2 separate regions of the Homo sapiens genome follow, and region 2 is linked to region 1. A link means that fine-mapping ties the variant in region 1 to the expression of a gene that starts in the linked region. Tissue or cell type: whole blood. Region 1 holds a variant in brackets; the other region holds the start of a gene. All regions are shown on one strand. Distances are from middle to middle.

Region 1 (4,350 bases):
TACTAAAAATACAAAAATTAGCTGGGCATGGAGGTGCACACCTGTAATCCCAGCTACTCGGGAGGCTGAGGCAGGAGAATCGCTGGAACCCCGGGGGCAGAGGTTGCAGTGAGCCAAGATCGCACCACTGCACTCCAGCCTAGGCGAAAGAGCAAAACTGCGTCTCAAAAAAAAAAAAAAAAGTGTTTCCTTGTCTGAAAGAGAGGTATCTGCCTGCAAGCCCCACCCAGCCTGCAGTCCCTGGTTTTGCACATCTGTTTCTGCTTGTGCCTCTCGTTCCTGACAGCCATACCATTAGCAGGCCACCTCCTAGCTATCATTCAGACCTCAAATTAGATGTCACCTTTTCTAAGAAGACTTCTTTGACCACTACTTCCTCAAAGTCTGATGCCATGACATGTAGTATGTTTTGTACTATCTCATAAAAGCTTGTCTACTTGCATACATGGTTTGGCACTCAATAAATGTTTGGCGAGTGAAGGAAAAAGTCAGGCATCAGATGCTGTGTGCTGGAGTCCATTTATTCAGGCCCTCAATTGAGAACAGCAAGGAAAGTGCCCTAGAGTGGGGAACCAGTCAGCCCACCTTCCCCAGCAACCCACCCCCCCCCGACCCTCCCCCTCCCCCCGTGAGTTTGAAGTGAACTGGTGGTCAGGTTGAAGCAGCAGGCACTCTGGCTCCTGAAGTGGCTGGGGCGATGGTGCTGCAGATAGCTGTGCACTCACAACAGGGGCAGTCAAGCCTCCCCAAGCAGTCAGTGAGAGCTGCTTCCTGGGAGCAGTGGGACAGATGTGGAGTCTGGAAGTGGGTCAAGTTGCAATCACAAGACCACTAGTCCTCACTCCTGCAGATGCTTGCTTTTTCTATGGTTATTGTGATGTGCTCAGCTAGAGAAATTTCTAATTGCTTACAAACCAAATTCCCAGGAGCCGGGCAGATGGTGATCCAAGAGTACAAATCCAGCCCAGGCCAGAGATGGGTAAAGGAGCTGCACTAGGCTGGCCAGGGCATCAGGGAAAGCTTTTTGTCCTGATTGTAAACAGTGTCCTCTCTTCTCCCAAACCCTTTGGACTCTTGCCTGACAGATTCTGGAGGGGTTGGGATAGGGGCAGTGAGTGCATCCTATCCAACCCCACACCCCACTACCCTGACTGTAATGCCGCTGAGATCGCTCTGGCACCACCTATGGGCCTCTGATTTACTATTTTAAACCAAATACCTTTTCCAAAACCAAAACTCTGCCCGTTTGGACCAATTGTTTTGCTCCAGGGACAGGGTCTGTAACACACAACAGAGATCTGGTGTCTGGAAAAGTTGAACATCTTTAGAAGAGCATAAAGAAAAAAGTAAAAGCCCATTTCTGAGTGAGGCCGGCCAGCCCAGCTGGAGAAGGCAACAGGCTGTTGGGAGAGCCAAAGGACCACTTGGCCAGCTTGTCAGACCCTGGGCCAAGCCATTGTATAAGCTCCAAAGTATTGGAAAGAAGGAAAGAAAAAAATCGGGACGTGTTTTTAGTCTTGCTCAGGAGCCCAGAACATGCTCACAACTCCAGGAATCTGCTCTTTTCTGCAAACGGAAAATGTGATCCATGAGAACAAATTTGACTGCTGGAGTGTGTGCCTATGTTGCCCTGCCCTGTAACTTAGGGGGCGAGGACTTACACCACCTGTGACTGCTTTCCAGAGTCCCCTGTACTCCTCTGAGAAGCTGGCTCACTTTAATAGTTAAGACAGGACAGTGGCCTCAGAATCGAAATACAGAGTATGCATTTATTGACATCTGCCCTGGGCTACACTGGGTTTCTAGCAAGAACAGAAGCGAATGCAAAGGGAAATGTACAAATACAGTTAGCAACCTGGTGTAATTGTGGATACCAGGAGATGTTCTTTCCAGACTTGGTAGAGGAACTATGATCACCCTATATTTAATAGCTTAACTTTGAATGTGCACTAGAATTCCAAATTTAGCAAAGAAATAAATAAGTTATTTACATTTCAAGTAAAAGTATTGTGTTTTATTTCTTTATTTCACCACCATTTATATGTATGAACTATGATCAAGGCTTGCCTATGTCCTGTGGAGCAAGGCCAAGAAATATGCTTTATATTGGTTATTTGATCTTCAGCATCAGATTATCACTATTGCAGAGGTGGGCAAAACCATGCAAAAAGAAGAGGAAGTATATTTGCATTAATGGCATTAAATGAAGTACAGTTGAAGCTGCAGAGTTTTACCAGTGGCCAATTTCTTGTGTTTCATTTAAAGAACAGTTTCACAAAGGGGCTTTATTGTGCCATTGTGGGGGCCACGTGCCAATCAGTAGCATGGGACAAAGTAAGTAAAGGCATGAAGAAACAAACAAGCAAATTCACGAAAACAGAAGTGCTTAAATTAACCAAGTGACAGTTTGTGCATCAGTCTCACAATGGCTGTCACATGAAATGAGGGCAGAAGAGGGTGAAGTACCACAAAACTTAGTTGATCAGGGGCTGTTGAGCAACTCTAGGAAATCTCAGAGAGGCCACCACTCCAC[C/T]CTGGCGCTGGCCACCCCTGCTCGCTCGCTGCTGCCTCCTCGAGGGCACTCTTCCTTGGACAGTGCCTGCAGCAGGGGACTGGGCTGGGGTGCTTTGGAGGTACTGGAAGGCACTCTGGCGGCCTACTTGCCTCTCTACACAGTTGAAGGTGAGGGCTACTCCCACATTGCTCTTCATGATTCTGGAGGAGCCATCGGATGTGCCATCAAAGCACCGGCCGAGCGCGATCTCCTTGGCCGTGCGAGGGTCCTGGTCAGTGACAGTGTAGATGCCATAGTTGTGGCCCAGTGGGTCCAAGGGTGCCAGCATGGTGTACTCACTGGTGTCGTTGTTGACTGCAAGTGGCAAGTGGTTGACCAGGTACTCATGCAGCATGGGGTTCACACTGGCTCGACGGCAGCTGCCCTGGGGGATGACCTTCACCAGGGTGCGGTCCACACGGTCCTGATCATAGAGCATCCCACTGCACTTGAACTCCAGACAGGCAGCTGAGACATTGGGCTGGTCCCTGTCCCGAGTGCTCCTCACATCTCGGATTCCATACAGCTTCCCCACTGTCTGCCGATGAGTGCCCCCCATGTTGCGGGATCGCACATTCACTTCCAGTGGCCCCACAATCTTCACCTTGATATAGCAGGCCCTGAATTCCATCGGCTTTGGCCACCATGCCAGATAGTCTTCAGTCCAGCTCATAGGGTCATCTTCGTTGAAGGGGACTGTGTTGTAGTCATATCGATCCCCCTCAATCTGGTAGAACCGGAAGTGGGCTGCACTGGGTGGTGCCTCTTCACATGCCCGGAGGTTCTCAAAGGCATAGATGGGCCCATTGCTCTCCTCAGCTGAGTTGGGCCTTGGCTTGGCCATGCTAATCTGGAAAGCTGTCTTTTTAACCCGTGGATCCTCATGGTCCGTCCGACGGTAGTTGAGCTTGTTGAGATAGGGCTGAGGGACGCCAATTGCATTTGGGTTGAATTTAGGAGAAGACTCCACTGCTTGCAGTTCCTCCCCAGCCAGGCTTGCCAAGACATAGGCAGAGTAGGCATCAGGGGACTGGTCATCACAGAAGGCAGGCACACAGGCCCCGTTGGGGCCTGTGATGACACTGTCAAAGCGGCCCCAGGCCCTAGGGTTGGACAAGAAGCCAGTTCTAGGCTCCAGGTTAATCACGGAGATCACAACCCCCTGGATCTGCTCACTAGGCAAGAACCTCTCACTCCGGTAGGCCCTCACCTTAACAAAGCACCGCCTGCTTTCAGGAACATCCAGGTTAAAGAGCCTCCTCTCACGAATCTCCAGGTTGCCCACCAGGAAGGTTCTGTCTTCTCTTTTGTTCCTCCTTTGATTTTCAAATTTGAAATCACCTTCCTCCTCCCACAGCCCTGTGTCTGGATTGAGTGACCAGAGTTTCACTGTGGATATGTGCTCTGGCATCTTGACCTGGGTCGAGTCAAGGTGGACCTTCACTTTGCCAGCATTAAGTGGCTCTGAGGTGACCTCATCTCTGAAGTCCACAGAGAACATGCCATACGTCCGAAGGGGGAAAGTGTCTCCTTCGTCATTGATGAAGTTCAGGTCAGTCTGGGCAGCTGTGGCTGTGGAAATATTCCGGGGATCCAGGAAGGTCACACTGGCCTTCACTTTTCCTATGTAGGGCTCCCCATTCTGCCTGTAGAAACTCCTGGATGGAATCTCCAGTTCAGCCATGGGGTCTTCACCAACCACTTCCCCCAGGGGGATGATGTTGGTCTCCATGGCTTCCAAAGTGATGGGCTTTTTCCGACGAAGCATCTTGATTTCATGGAACACGGCACTCCCC
Region 2 (4,000 bases), 81 kb before region 1:
TCTCAGTCCCCACAGAACCTTTGCATATCCTGTTCTGGATACTTGCTAAGTTCTTCCCTGTTGCTTCCCCACAATTAATTAAAAGCTGCTCAAATGCCAGGCACAATGGCTCACATCTGTAATCCCAGCACTTTGGGAGGCCAAGGTGGGCAAATCACTTGAGGTCAGGAGTTCGAGACCTGCCTGGCCAACATGGCAAAACCCCCTCTTTACTAAAAATACAAAAATTAGCCTGGTGTAGTGGCACACGCCTGTACTCACAGCTACTCAGGAGACTGAGACGAGAGAACTGCTTGAACCTGGGAGGCGAAGGTTGCAGTGAACCAAGATCACGCCACTGCACTCCAGCCTGGGCGACAAAGCGAGAGTCTGTCTCAAGAATAAAAAGAAAAGAAAAGAAAAGAAAAAGCTGTTCATTCTTCAGAGCTCAGCTGAAACATCACTTCCTCAAAAAAGCTTGCCCTGACTCTCAAACTTGGTCAGGTCTACCTAGCACAGTGGCCTTTACAAAGTTTTTTATTTTTTACTTTTTTGAGATGAAGTCTTGCTCTGTTGCCCAGGCTAGAGTGCAGTGGCTCGATCTCAGCTCACTGCAATCTCTGCCTCCCAGGTTCAATAGATTCTCCTGCCTCAGCCTCCCGAGTAGCTGGGATTACAAGCACCTGCCACCACGCCCGCTAATTTTTGTATTTTTAATAGAGATAGGGTTTCACCATCTTGGCCAGGCTGGTCTTGAACTCGTGACCTTGTGATCCACCTGCCTTGGGCTCGCAAAGTGCTGGGATTACAGGCATGAGCCACCGCGCCCAGCCTTTTTTTTTTTTTTTTAACTATGACCCATAGTATACTTTTATTTCCTAGCATACACATATGTAAACTGAATAATGATTCTTACCCTTACTATATGATACATATTTCCTATTATTTCAACTAAATGTGTCACAGAACGCTTTTGAAGAAAAATCCTAATTCATAATCTCAGAACCATGTCTTTCTTTCAAAGCACTCAGCATATTTTTTATGATTATTGGGTTAATATCTACCTTCCTCATTGCCTGTATTCTGTATGAGGTTAGGGAGTATTTGGCATTTTGCTTAGCTTTAATAGGCACTTAAACATTTGGAATGAAATATATAAATTGGCTGATAAGTACTTTTCCTTGTAGCACTTATCACAATTGTCTCTAATGACTCTGTTATAATCATTAAGCTTCTTCACTCTAAACTCCAGGAGGTCAGGAATCCTGTCTGTTCACCCCTTCTTACATCCCTAGCACCTAACCACAGTACCTGGAAAATGGTAAATAAAAAATCATTTCCCATAGAACATAATTCAAATTCTGGTATCCAGACTGTGGCCAGCATGAATTAACAAAGCTGAGGAAAGTGTCCACTGTTCTACACAGTTATGCACTCTAACACCACTTGCCTCAGAGACCTTAATCTTTGCTTTGGAGGCTATGAAAAACCAAATTTATTCCAAAAGGCAAATGAACTCTGCAATGGAAACATACTCTTCATGTGTGGCCAGATACAGGAAGCCAGGAACTACTATGTGGATTCACAAAAAGGTAAAGAGCTCATCATATGGAAATAGCTTATAGGTTCTAAGCATTACAAAAAATCTGGGACAAACAGGTGGCAAAAAACAAATTTAGTTGATAATGTCTCATTTAATCACTATTCCATAAATCACTACTATTTCAGAATGTTCACATTCCTTTCATATATTGCATATTATACTTATTTAAATGGAATAAGATATACTTTGTACTTACCTTGTAATTACCAGGAGAACTTCCCTGCAGACAAAGCGTGTATAAATGAATAGCTACAACAGATGGCATAAGCCTAAGCTTCTTGTTACAAATGTCACATGGGCATAGGAGCATGAATGGTTTTATAGAGTGATTAAGTTGGTTGGCTTGTAGCAGCAAATTCTTTGACATCATAAACTCAGCCACTTGGGCTAAATACCCTTAGTATTTAAGAACTAATCTCTTTCTCTCATAGCTTTCTAATCTCTGTATTTACCGAATTTATTAAAAACAAATGCTTTTGTACAGTTTTTCTTTTTAAAAGTATTCCAGTTAATAATTGAAGAATGACAGAATTAAACTATCACTATTTTTGAGTCCCCTCCCCATCAATGAATGAATCTGGGTCTTATCAGTGGCCGCTAACATCACAAAAAAAGCCAAGACATCAGTGCCTCCTGACTGGAAGTACACATTATGTCTGTGAAGTATTCCTGCCAGAAAATTCCAATCTGAATGTGATCAAGCCTCTAGATCAGCACTATCCAATTGAAACGTGATCCACATATGTAATTGCACATCTCAACTCAAATAGATCACATTTCAAGTGCTCAACAGCTGAATGTGGCTACTATATTGGACAGTACAGCTCTGTTTAACTACTAAATTATAGGACATACGAGAACAGAGGGACATGGCATCACAAGGATGCAAACAACAGTGTATGGAGTCTATTCAGATCCTAATTTGAACAAAACGTAAAACATTTACGAGAGGGCAATTTGAACAATGATTGGATATTTGTGATATTCAGGAGTTGTTACTCCTTTATTTAGATGTGATAATGGCCCTGTAGTTAGATTTTTTTTTTAATCACTTAAAGCTACATAATGAAATATTTACAGATGAAGTAATTTGATGCCTGAGATTTGCTTCAAAATAATCCAGGGTGAGTGGAGGATGTATAGATGAAACAAGATTGGCCATAAGCTGATAATGATTTGAAGCTGGATGATGGGTACATGGAAAAAAATCATTGTACTATTCTCTTTACTTTTGAATGTATTTGAAATTTTCCCCAAGTTAAAAAAAGAAAAAAAAAGACTGTGGGATAACATTACAATAACACTGCTCATATTCTTGAAAGTACAATTCATTAAAGATACTACCATGAGTCTCTCTAAACCTGAAAGAACCAGTGGCTACTGCCACCACCACTACACACAGGTAATAAACCAGGAAAATCTTACAAATAAAAACCGAACAAGAGTAATGCTCATGTTTTGTTTTGTTTTTTAATTTTCTTTGTTTTGAGACAGAGTCTCGCTCTATTGCCCAGGCTGGAGTGCAATGGTGTGATCTCAGCTCACTGCAACCTCCGCCTCCTGGCTTCAAGTGATTCTCCTGCCTCAGCCTCCCAAGTAGCTGGGATTACAGGCGCCTGCCACCATGCCTGACTAATTTTTGTATTTTTAGTATAGATGGGGTTTCACCATGTTGGCCAGGCAGGTCTTGAACTCCTGACCTCAAGTGATCCATCTACCTTGGTCTCCCAAAGTGCTGGGATTACAGGCGTGAGCCACCACACCCAGCCTGATCACTTTATTAAAACCTTGCAAGGGCCAAAGGAAAAAGGGATTTTTTTTTTCTCCATCTGTGGCTAAATGCCACCTTCTTGGGTTCTGCTGTCCGAGTTTTCCTGAGTCCCTGCAGCACATTCCCTGCCCTCACAGCAGATATCTTAGTGGCAAGGCTGTCCAGACACCAAACACACATCGTACAATTCACCTTATTTCTACTCTTCCTGCATCTCATCAGAGAGCAAATGGTGGAGATATCTAACAAAAAGGCACACAGGATTGTGGAGCTCTATGAGGGTAATCATATCAGATTTTAAGATTTATAAGCGTAGACATACATTTTGGAGACATGTGGCCCTCATTCCCTATCTGTTGACTCTATATAATGTATAAATTAATGCAAATTAAACAACAGAAAAGGGACAAAGCCATTAGTATCTTGCACCCAAAAGCTTCCAACTACAGTACGTAACATTATTTCCAAAATTGATGGTATCCTTACCAATCCAGACTTGGATTTTGCAGATAAAGTTTAGCATTTAAGATTCAAATTCCTGTAACAAATGCCTGCTTAATAAATTTGAATTTTTGAATGAAAATATGTTTCATCAATGTGAAAGTGTGTGTTAAGTGATTTGGAAGGCAACAAATTGGCAGCAAAGG

Evidence for each region. PIP is the estimated chance that this variant, and not a neighbour inherited with it, causes the effect.
Region 2: UBAP1L starts here. The variant in region 1 is the best candidate, but not a certain one, in a credible set for the expression of UBAP1L in whole blood (INTERVAL, PIP 0.65).

The regions. Positions count from the first base shown.
Region 1 is chr15:65,194,257-65,198,606 of GRCh38, forward strand. CILP (cartilage intermediate layer protein) reads right to left here. Exons shown (of 9, transcript NM_003613.4): 9 at 504-4,350. The coding sequence ends at 2,475. Among named protein-coding and RNA genes, the nearest start is that of CLPX, 11 kb to the left of the region's middle. The variant C/T (reference allele first, on the strand shown) is at 2,534.
Region 2 is chr15:65,113,372-65,117,371 of GRCh38, forward strand. UBAP1L (ubiquitin associated protein 1 like) reads right to left here and starts at 1,829. Exons shown (of 6, transcript NM_001163692.2): 1 at 1,779-1,829.